Linked DNA regions of Homo sapiens: regions 2, 3 and 4 are each linked to region 1. Evidence: fine-mapped expression QTL. A gene starts in region 1. Each other region holds a variant in brackets. All regions are shown on one strand. Distances are between the middles of the regions.

Region 1 (2,764 bases):
GGGACCTGGATAGACACTTGGATATCAGCTAGAAAGCTACGACAGGAAACCAGGCGAGGACGAGGCAACTGGGGATGTTGTGGAGCAGAGACGGAGAGAAAATGGGTGCATTCGAGACAAGTTAGGGGGAAAAAATGCAAGGACTTGGAAATGAACTTGGGGCGCGGCAGGAAGGCATGACGGGTTGCTCTGTAGGTCTTATCTGTAAATTACGGCGATCAGTGAAAGATCTGGAGGAGGAAGGTGGACACACTCTCTAACAAAAAAAACCCTTTTTGAAATTTTATACCAATATTTTAAAAGTAAACCAGATCTTTTCAGACATGCCTTTGAGCTGATATTTGTTAACTAGTTAGAATTAGAAACTTTCCTTATTTTTACTCAGTTACAATATACGCCACAGCTGAGGTGAGAGGAAAGAAAAGGTTGCTTTCTTAGGAACAAAGAGTGGTACCTTCAGTATCGTGGGCAAAGCTTTTCCAAGTCCAACAGCAGTCAAAACAGCGCTTTTTATAAATAACACTCAGCTAAAAGTTTCTGGGTTTGTGATTGTTCCAACGGTTAAGCTCGGATGAGGGTCCCTGGAGTCGTAGCTCCCGGGAAACGTCGACTGGCTTTCCACCTGGACTTCATCCGTCCAGGCAGCCCAGAGGGGCTTCAGGCCCCGCCCGCTCTCCTGCCAACTACAGCCTCGCGACTGCGCTCAGCCTTCAGGCCCCGCCCCTTCGGTCAAGCGGCGTGCTCTCACTGCACGGCGCCTGGGCCCCGCGCGCCGGGACCTCGGTTTCAGCCGTCCTGTCCTGCCCCGAGGCCCCTAGGCCCCGCCCCTGGGCCCCGCGCGCCAGGACTTCGGTTTCGACCGTCCTGTCCCGCCCCGAGGCTCCTAGGCCCCGCCCCCTCTGTCCCCGGCGTGTTCTCGCGGCTCCGCCCCTAGGACCCGCGCGCCGGGACTTTGGCAAGTTTCAGCCGTCCGGCCCCGCCCCCTCGGTCCCACGGCTCTCGCGGCCCCTCCCCTAAGTCCCACACGCCGGGACTTTGGCAAGTTTCAGCCTCCAGCCCCACCCCTAGGTCCCGCCCACTCGGCCAGCGGCTGGCTCTCGCGGCCCCGCCCCTGTGCCCTGCGAGTCCCTATTTTGGGAGCATTGCGGCCGCCGTGCCCCGCCCCTCCCCGCGCGCCCCGCCCCTCTGGCGGCCCGCCGTCCCAGACGCGGGAAGAGCTTGGCCGGTTTCGAGTCGCTGGCCTGCAGCTTCCCTGTGGTTTCCCGAGGCTTCCTTGCTTCCCGCTCTGCGAGGAGCCTTTCATCCGAAGGCGGGACGATGCCGGATAATCGGCAGCCGAGGAACCGGCAGCCGAGGATCCGCTCCGGGAACGAGCCTCGTTCCGCGCCCGCCATGGAACCGGATGGTCGCGGTGCCTGGGCCCACAGTCGCGCCGCGCTCGACCGCCTGGAGAAGCTGCTGCGCTGCTCGCGTTGGTAAAGACGGAGCTTCTTGGGGGTGGCTGCGAGGGCACGGGTCGCACAGTTTCTGGGGGCGGCAGAATCTTTTCAAATCTTCCGTTTCCTCCTTCCGTTCCCGCGCTGCAGTCGGGTCGGCGTGCGGTTAGCACCTGCCGGGGGATATAGTATTAACAACTTCTGCTTCTCATTCACTTTATTTTTGGGCGACTTACCGGCCTCCCCTTGCCCTGAATCCAACTGAAACGGTAGTTTTTGAACTTCAGCGGGCTGAAGAACCGTCTGGAGGTGTGGCTAAAAAAATGTTCATCCCGGTCGCGCCTCCAGAGTTTGAATCGGGCTGGGGTGGGGCTGAGGCTTCTGCATTTTTTACCCGGCCCTGGATTACCCCGCTGCTTTCCGGGAGCTGTGGCGAATTGGGCTGGCGGGCCGCCCCGGAGACCCTCTAAATTAGAAGCAGCTGCCACTCTAAGTTAAACTGGCCTTTTTGACATTTTCTCCGTGCCAGCTTTTTCGAGTGAGATGGGATGGAGCATCGGATATCTACCATAGTTGTAGATTGAAGATGGCACGGAATTTCTCATTTTCTTAGTTTGCTCAAAAGACTGTATGTCTGGTGTCCCCGCTCTTAGTGATGCTGTTTATTGTTTTCCTTCATGCTGTCACATTATGGGAGTCCTCTCAGGGTTTTCATTCCGTCCAAAGACATTTTCATGAGTGTTACTTCTTGCTTTTTTTCGTGTAGCTCTTTCTAGTATACAAACCAAGAAGGTTTGTAAAACCCAAGAAAGGTTTGTCTCATTTTCATTTCTTCTGAAAAGCATTTTTATTGAGCACTTGCTGTGTGTACAGCTAAGTATTTCTGTATGAAGATCACTGGCAGTTTTTTTGTTATTTGTAGCTGTCAAAAGTTTATATCCTTTTTGGACTTTTTTCCCCTTTGATTTCTAACTTGCAGAACTTAAGTTACCTAGTTGCATAAAGTATAAGTAACACAACTTTTTCTTTTCTTTCCTTTTTTGAGACGGAGTCTCGCTCTGTCGCCCAGGCTGGAGTGCAGTGGCACGATCTTGTCTCACTGCAAGCTCCGCCTCCCGGGTTCACGCCATTCTCCTGCTTCAGCCTCCCAAGTAGCTGGGACTGCAGGCGCCCGCCATCATGCCCGGCTAATTTTTTGTATTTTTAGTACAGATGGGGTTTCACCGTGTTAGCCAGGATGGTCTCCGTCTCCTGACCTCGTGATCCGCCCGCCTCTGCCTCCCAAAGTGCTGGGATTACAGGCGTGAGCCACGGTGCCCGGCCAAACT
Region 2 (2,764 bases), 85 kb before region 1:
GAATTTCTTAGGAAGAAATGGTTAAATGTCCTGGATGGTTTCTTTTCTATTTGTATGTGTTTTTAATACCCCTAACTGCCCTTTCTCAGACAAAAATTTATGACACCATGTTTTGTTTAGTTAGACTTTCAGTGGCCTAAAGGCTCTGAATGCTAATGAGATAATTTGGCTGGAAATTCCAGATTGAGGCAATTAAGTCATGACCTGTGACAAACTAACTGTGCCTTAATTGTGAGGTAATTGAAATTCCTTTATTTGAAAAATATAATGGAAAAACAAAGTTTATTTTAATCACCTGGCCAAACTTTCAGAAAAATAGAATTGATAGTTATCATGTTAATTCTACGGATGTGTTACAGGGGAAAATGTTAATTCGTTTTCAGTTTGGGGCTGTAAATGTGGATCTAATATATACCACTTTGATTATTCTTGATCAAAAACTTTAAAAGGCTGTGTAATACAAAAATTACATAGCATCAAAATGTGCTAAGCCATACATAAAATTGTTGCTGGCATAATCCAGAAATAGAAAGGGGGTCTTCAAAAAATTCATGGACAATGCAAATGATAAAAAAAACTCTGGCTGGGCATGGTAACTCATGCTTGCAATCCCAGCACTTTGGGAGGCTAAGGCGGGCAGCTCACCTGAAGTCAGGAGTTCAAGACCAGCCTGGCCAACATGGGGAAATCCCATCTCTACTATAAATACAAAAATTAGCCGGGCATGGTGGTGCACACCTGTAGTCCCAGCTACTCTGGAGGCTGAAGCAGGAGAATTGCTTGAACCCAGCAGGCAGAGGATGCAGTGAGCCAAGATCATACCACTGTACTCCAGCCTGGGTGTCAGAGTGACAGTCTGTCACAAAAAAAAAAAAAAAAAAAAAAAAATGAGATGACATTGAAGATGAAGCCCACAGCAGCAGACCATCACATCATTTCATGAGGAAAAATTAATCATTTGTTCCCTAATTGAAGAGGACTGATGATTAACAGCAGAAAGAATAACCAACACCATAGACATCTCAGTTGCTTCAGCTCACACAATTCTGACTAAAAAATTAAACTTGAGCAAACTTTCCATTCAATGAGTGCCAAAAGCATTGTGTCCAGATCAGGTGCAGAAAGAACTTTCAATGGAAATATTAAACAAGTGGGATCAAGATCCTGAAGCATTCTTTCACCTTGGCAGACAAACAGATATATGTATACCCTGAAGCATGTCTTTGAAGAATTGGAACAGGTGATGAAATATGACTTTACCAGGATGATCCTGAAGACAAAGCACAATCAACACAAGGCTACCAAGAGGTGGAAGTGGTCCAGTCAAAGTAGAAATAGCCTGGTCAAGGGCAAATGTCATGCCAAGAGTTTTTTGGGATGCTTAAGTTATTTGGCTTGTTGACTTTCTGGAGGGCCAATGGATGAAAAGATCTGCTTATTATGAGAGTATTTTGAGAAAGTTAGCTAAAGATTTAGCAGAAAACACCCAGGAAAGCTTCACCAAGGAGTCCTTGTCCACCACAACAATGCTCCTGCTTGTTTCCCTCATCAAATGAGGGCAATTTTGTGAGAGTTTATATAGCAAATCATCAGACAACTAAACTTACAGTATTGATTTGGCTCCTTCTGATTTTTTTTTTTT[C/TC]CTTTATCTTAGAAAATCTTTAGAAGACACCCTTTCTTTTGTGAGTAATATAAAAAAGACTGCACTGACATGGTTAAATTCCCAGGACCCTCAGTTCTTTAGGGATGGACTAAATGGCTGATACTGCTTAGAAAGGTGTCTTGAACTTGATGAAGCCCAAGTTGAGAAATAAAGTCTTTTTTTTTTGTTTTTATCTTTTAATTCGATTTTCCATGAACTTTTAATTCCATTTTTCCATGAACAAGCCCCCTCATATATTAGTGTATGTACCCATAGCTTATAAAAATTTAGGTCTAAATTAAAGATGTGGTATGACTCAGGTATTCAGTAAACATCATGAAAAAGTGAATGGCCATAAAAGAGTAACAACACTGTTTAGAGTGCCCCATATAAGTGAATTTTCCAGATAACAATAGCTGGCCCCTTAAAGTGACATTATTTTTTAATAATTTATTTTTCTTCAGCTTTTATTCTATGTTCAGGGTACATGTGCAGGATGTGCAAGTTTGTTGCATAGGTGAAAGTGTGCCATGGTGGTTTGGTGCACAGATCAACCCATCACCTAGTTATGAAGCCCAGCATCCCTTAGCTATTCTTCCTGATGCTCTCCCCCCAACCACCCCATTAGGTTTTGAGAGAATTCTTTCTGCCCTCTGGAACAGAATTGTATCTTCTTGGTGACTCAGGACCATCATTGTAAGCTTGGGTTATTATACTGGGCTAGGATGCACTGACATCTACAGGGGCCTCAGAAAAAATGGGTAAGAGTGTGAATTCTGGGGCAAGATGGCCAGGTTTAAAATTTAGCCCTCCCCCTAACTCTACTAAGTGTACCTAGACTCGTTACTTGCACTCTGGTGTCCTCATCCACAAAATGAGAATAATAATAGTACTGCCTCACCAAGCTGTTGTGAGGATGAAATGAGTTCATACATGTAAAAGATTTAGAAGAGTGCCTGATAAACGTGCATTACTATTACCACTATTCTTGAGGTGTTTAGTTGTTCACAAAATAGTCCCACACTTTCTTTTGATGTTGTGTTTGTTCAGTGGACATTCATTTTTTTTTCTTCTGCTCTTTTAATTTAAGGATGTTGAGGTCATATCTAGGGCATCAAGAAG
Region 3 (2,500 bases), 39 kb after region 1:
CCTGCCTCAGCCTCCCAAAGTGCTGGGATTACAGGTGTGAGCCACCACGTCTGGCCAGCAAAATTTTTTAAAAAGAAAAAAAAATCAAATATTATATTTAGGAGAATTAGTGATTTCTACATTATCAAACCAACAGAGGAAAAAAATTTCAGAAAAAAGTATTGGGAGAGGGGTTGGGTGGGGAGAGATTTATTCACTAAAGAAGCACTCACGAAACTCATTGAACACAATGTTATGCATGTAACTTCTGTCTATAGCTTTTTATTTGGTCTTTTTTGAGAGTATGCTCTGCTAGATATTTTTGCTTTATCGTCATGGACTTAGGTACTGTACCCTGCCCTGTTATCCTAAAAGAACTGATTAGTTATATTTGCAGTGAGTGGTGATAATAATGTAATTTCAAGAAAATTTTTACCTTCATCCCGCTGCATAAATGCCTCCTTCTTCCTAAAGCCTGACATTGTTTTACAAAGGGACAGTATCCTTTATATTACAGCTAGAGATTTTTAAAAAGGCTTTAAGAGTTAACGGATACTTAAAACGTAATATGTAATTAAATATAAATGATAGATGTCAGATCTTTCCACATTACATGAAGGGCCAAATTTAAGAGACCCTGGTATTAGATAGCTGGAGGATTATTATCTCTCACTTCTAGGAAAATAAAAAAGAAGAGTGGGAGGGCAGACTACCTGAGACCAGTTCCCCAGAACTCCTTTGCCACAGTCTACCTTCGCTGGAGGCTGGCAGCAGAGGGAAGCTATTTTTTTTGTCTTACTTCAAGACAGCTTTAAAGTGACCTTAAAAGTCTACTCATTTATAGTAGGATTTAGTTGGATCATGACACACAAGACACAGAAAGTTCAAAACTGGAAGGGGTCTTCAATTTTAATGCTATTTAATAATTGACGGTGTCTTAATATGAAAGTCGAATTAATATTGTCTGCCTTCAGAGTATTTTCCTTGCCTTGTGCCTCATTTTAATTCACTTATTCCCCGGATCTTGCTCATCTGATTTAAAAAGAGGTTGTGATTTCTAAAGTAAAGTTATTGTATTTCTTACTATTCCTCATCTGCCTTCTCCATTGCATCAGTGTGCTACTGTTGCTACTGTTATAACATTGTTGCATAGCTCTCCAGAGTACTGGAATAGAGAAATAGAGAAATTGAAAACCACTTGTTAGAAAAGACTTGTAAGGCTACATTACAGAAGCTCTATTTCGTATAGTTGAAT[T/G]AGTTGATAATGGGTGGTGATTTTAGTCTTGAACTGGGCGGGGAGCAGGGGGATAAAAAATTTAATGCTAATTCTGTGGGCTGATTTGAATAGGTTTGTACTGATCTCTTTTTTTGCCATTTTAAACAGAGCAACTGTTGCTTCCTAGAAAATGTTGAACAAATAAGGTGAATATAAACTAAATGTATTAGGATGGAGTAACTGCCAATAAAATGGCAGTTTTTGGCTGTTTTTTAACTTTGGTTTCACTGAGTAGTCTTCTGGGCTAAACAGTTTTGGTTGTTTTAAACAATACTCAGAAGCCATTTACAAATGCTCAAAAATTGTTTTTTTCACAAGTGAAATTATGGCTTTTAAAACTTCATTGTGAGCACATGATCTTTGGCCAGTGTCCTTTATTTGGTACCTGAAATGAATTTTGAATATGGCTTTCTAATAGATTTTGTAGTCTATATTCAAGCATGACTGTACTTCTTGATATCTCAGAATAATTTATACGCAGACAATTTCTTTTTTGTTTTGTTTTTTTGAGACGGAGTCTTGCTCTGTGGCCCAGGCTGGAGTGCAGTGACATGATCTTGGCTCACTGCAACCTCTGCCTCCTGGGCTCAAGTGATTCTCCTGCCTCAGCCTCCCAAGTAGCTGGGATTACAGGCTGGCACCACCATGCCCGACTAGTTTTGTATTTTTAGTAGAGACGGGGTTTCACCATGTTGACCAGGCTGGTCTCAAACTCCTGACCTCAGGTGATCCACCCACCTTGGCCTCTCAAAGTGTTGGGATTACAGGCGTGAGCCACCACACCCGGCCTAATAATTTATTAACTCATGAACAGTAGCCTTAAGAGAAAACGATTTAAGTTTTACTTTATATTGAAGAAGGCAGCATTTAAAAAAGCTCAATATTTTCCTTTCTTTCCTTAATGCTTTTTAATTTCCGTTTTGTTCATTTTTCTAGGGCGACATACCTTCTGTTGAATACCTTTTACAAAATGGAAGTGATCCAAATGTTAAAGACCATGCTGGATGGACACCATTGGTAGTTGTCTGGTTTTTATTCTCATTCTTTCTGTGTTTTACAGTTCTTATAGTTTATAGTTATGTAGTTGTCTATATATCATCCTCTGCCACATATACTCTTTTTAGTCTGAAGAACTTATGTTTTCATCAAGTATGAGAACATGATTACTTTCCTTCTAGCTTTTCATTTGTGACAGGCAAGAAATTGGTTACCTTTTGACAGACTACCTTTAGATTTAGGAATCCA
Region 4 (2,500 bases), 52 kb after region 1:
ATTACTCTGCTTTATCCTGCTCCATAGCAAGCAAAGTGACTTGAAAAATTAAATCTATATGTTTGCAGTTTTGTAGTTATTCATGAAGGGTTTCATTCATGAACTCTCTTGGTATCCTGTCATGCGTGATAGATTTAGTATTAGTAAAAATGCCTTTTTGCATATGTTTTTGCAGTTTGGATGGTCTGTACATGCAAGTACAAGTTTAAATTTGCCCATCTCTCCTTTCTCTCTTTTATTAGTGGTGTAATGAATTCAGATCACCATTGTAGGCAGGTGTCTGCCATATTATTACTGAGGGGAAAAGGATATTAAAAGGTTATACTGCATCCTGAATGTGGCCTTTGGGACAAAACTGAAACATTGAACACCACAGTTTAGCCCTTTCATAAGTACTTCCTTTTCCTCATCTTCAGGATCAGAAGGATTCCTAGTTAGGAAAAGGATTTTCAGAGTTATGTGGTTCATACTCTTTAGATAGTGCCACATGGGAAAATGAAAATCTACTCTTAGAATGTTGTTAAGAAGACATAATTCTATACTTTCCCTTAGTAAACTTCCAGATTATCATGAAAAACATGCATCAATTGTATCATAAAATTGGGGAAAATGAAGATATGAGGTTAATGCTCCAGACATAACTTATTTTGTGCCCTTATCTTCATTCTGTATCTGTCTTCCAAAAATGCAAATCCAATACAGTAATATAATGGCAGTTATTGAGCTGTTCATATATGCTAGGTACTGTTTTAAATGCTTTTGATGTATTCATTTGATTCTGGCAACAATCCTGTAAAATAGATAGTGTTATTATTTCCATCTTATAAATGAGGAAACAGGCACGGGATTTAAGTAATTCGTGTAAAGTCATAAGACTTTTGAGTGGCAGGGCTGAAATGTAAGTTCAGGCAGTCTTATTCGGTAACCCCAACTCTTAACTACCATGCTACGTTGATGCCATCCCTCCTGCTTACAATGATTTAGGAAGCTGTTCAGGGTTTCTTATTGCCTTTGGGAGGAAGTCCAACTCTTTAACACCTCCTCTTTGTTCTTATATAATCTGACCATAGCTTACAGTTCGAGAGTACCTCATATTCCTGTGGTACATTCCCTCTCTTTCTCTCACTCTCCCTTTACCCCCTTTTTTCCTTTTTTTT[G/TG]GTGGTTCTAAAAAGTTCTAAGTGCTATCTCACTTAAAGTCCTTCACACACTTTTCTGTCTGCTAGGATATTCTTATTCTGTTTGTGTACCCGCTTTTCTTCCTTACCCTTTCAGGTCTGGGGAGCTTTACCAGACTGCAAAACCTTTTCTGTGTGCCTCTCTGCTTTCCTCCTCTGAGTTCTGTGAGGACATTGTTTCTATAGTGCCAAAAGTTGTTGGTACATTTTTTTCAAAGTATTTGCTGAATGATGACTATTTTCCAAACTAATTGCAAAACAGAGTTTGTGACTTTTCCCCCTACTTGTTTATACAAATATATTCATTCCATGTGTGTTAAATAAATAAACGATTATTGCTACTTCTGATATATGCAATATATATATCATGCATTATGTATATTAATACATATATCCATTTTCACATAGGTTCTATCAACATCAGTAACAAATCATCCAGTATTTCATACTACATTTTAGATAGCAAAAAGCAATGACACATGAACACCTGGATTGTCTGTTCAAGATTTTAAAATGTAAAATCTCCAGTCATATCTTTAAAGATTTTATAAAGCATATTTTCCACATTATGATTTAAAATCATAGGTAAAGGAATAGCGCAAGAGTACATTAGAAAAAAAAAAAACTGGTGAAATCTGCCAGTGTACTGTGTTGTCAAGGAACAGAAAAAAAATTAGAGCCTTTGAATTTTTAGGATTCAGTATATGTATTAGTCCCTTTTCATACTGCTGTGAAACACCTGAGACTGGGTAATTTATAAGGAAAAGAGGTTTAATTGGCTCATGGCTCCCCAGGCTATACAGGAAGGGCCTCAGGAAACTTACAGTCATGGTGGGAGATGAAGGGGAAGCAGGCACATCTTACGTGGTCAGAGCAGGAGGAAGAGGCGAGGAGGTGCTGCAGCCTTTTAATTTATTTATTTATTATAATTTTTTTATTTCCATAGGTTTTTGGGAACAAGTGGTATTTGGTTACACAAGTAAGTTTTTTAGTGGTGATTTGTGAGATTGTGGTGTACCCATCACCCGAGCAGTACACACTGAACCCAGTTTGTAGTCTTTTATCCTTCACCACCTTCCCACCTTTTCCCCTTGAGTCCGTGAAGTCTGTTGTGTCATTCTTATGCCTTTGCATCCCCATAGCTTAGCTTCCACTTATGAATGAGAACATACAATGTTTGATTTTCCCTCCTGAGTTACGTCACCTAGAATAATAGTCTCCAGTCCCATCCAGGTTGCTGTGAATGCCATTAGTTCATTCATTTTTATGGCTGAGTGGTATTCTATTGTATATATACACCACAGTTTCTTTATCCACTCATTGAT

Which allele goes with the higher level. Alleles are on the strand shown, and positions count from the first base shown. SD is a standard deviation of normalised expression in the study named. Not every link is listed here.
For the expression in naive CD8 T cells of the gene that starts at base 1,204 in region 1, allele TC in region 2 goes with a higher level than allele C (large effect, 0.87 SD a copy in Schmiedel 2018).
For the expression in B cells of the gene that starts at base 1,204 in region 1, allele T in region 3 goes with a lower level than allele G (moderate effect, 0.60 SD a copy in Fairfax 2012).

The links.
Region 2: its variant is fine-mapped to the expression of BARD1 in naive CD8 T cells (Schmiedel 2018, PIP 0.91).
Region 3: its variant is fine-mapped to the expression of BARD1 in B cells (Fairfax 2012, PIP 0.95).
Region 4: its variant is fine-mapped to the expression of BARD1 in monocytes (BLUEPRINT, PIP 0.95). The same link has a PIP of 0.9 or more in monocytes after interferon gamma.

What each region holds. Positions count from the first base shown.
Region 1 is chr2:214,808,123-214,810,886 of GRCh38, reverse strand. BARD1 (BRCA1 associated RING domain 1) reads left to right here and starts at 1,204. Exons shown (of 11, transcript NM_000465.4): 1 at 1,204-1,475. The coding sequence starts at 1,318. It overlaps SNHG31 (small nucleolar RNA host gene 31), which reads right to left and starts at 658. Exons shown (of 4, transcript NR_110292.1): 1 at 455-658. RefSeq lists a silencer at 726-1,295 and enhancers at 1,846-1,925, 2,216-2,265.
Region 2 is chr2:214,892,630-214,895,393 of GRCh38, reverse strand. The region is part of intron 2 of SNHG31 (small nucleolar RNA host gene 31); the gene reads right to left. Among named protein-coding and RNA genes, the nearest start is that of SNORA70I, 47 kb to the right of the region's middle. The variant C/TC (reference allele first, on the strand shown) is at 1,643.
Region 3 is chr2:214,769,004-214,771,503 of GRCh38, reverse strand. BARD1 (BRCA1 associated RING domain 1) reads left to right here. Exons shown (of 11, transcript NM_000465.4): 5 at 2,192-2,272. Among named protein-coding and RNA genes, the nearest start is that of BARD1, 39 kb to the left of the region's middle. The variant T/G (reference allele first, on the strand shown) is at 1,235.
Region 4 is chr2:214,756,591-214,759,090 of GRCh38, reverse strand. All of the region lies in intron 6 of BARD1 (BRCA1 associated RING domain 1), which reads left to right. Among named protein-coding and RNA genes, the nearest start is that of BARD1, 52 kb to the left of the region's middle. The variant G/TG (reference allele first, on the strand shown) is at 1,158.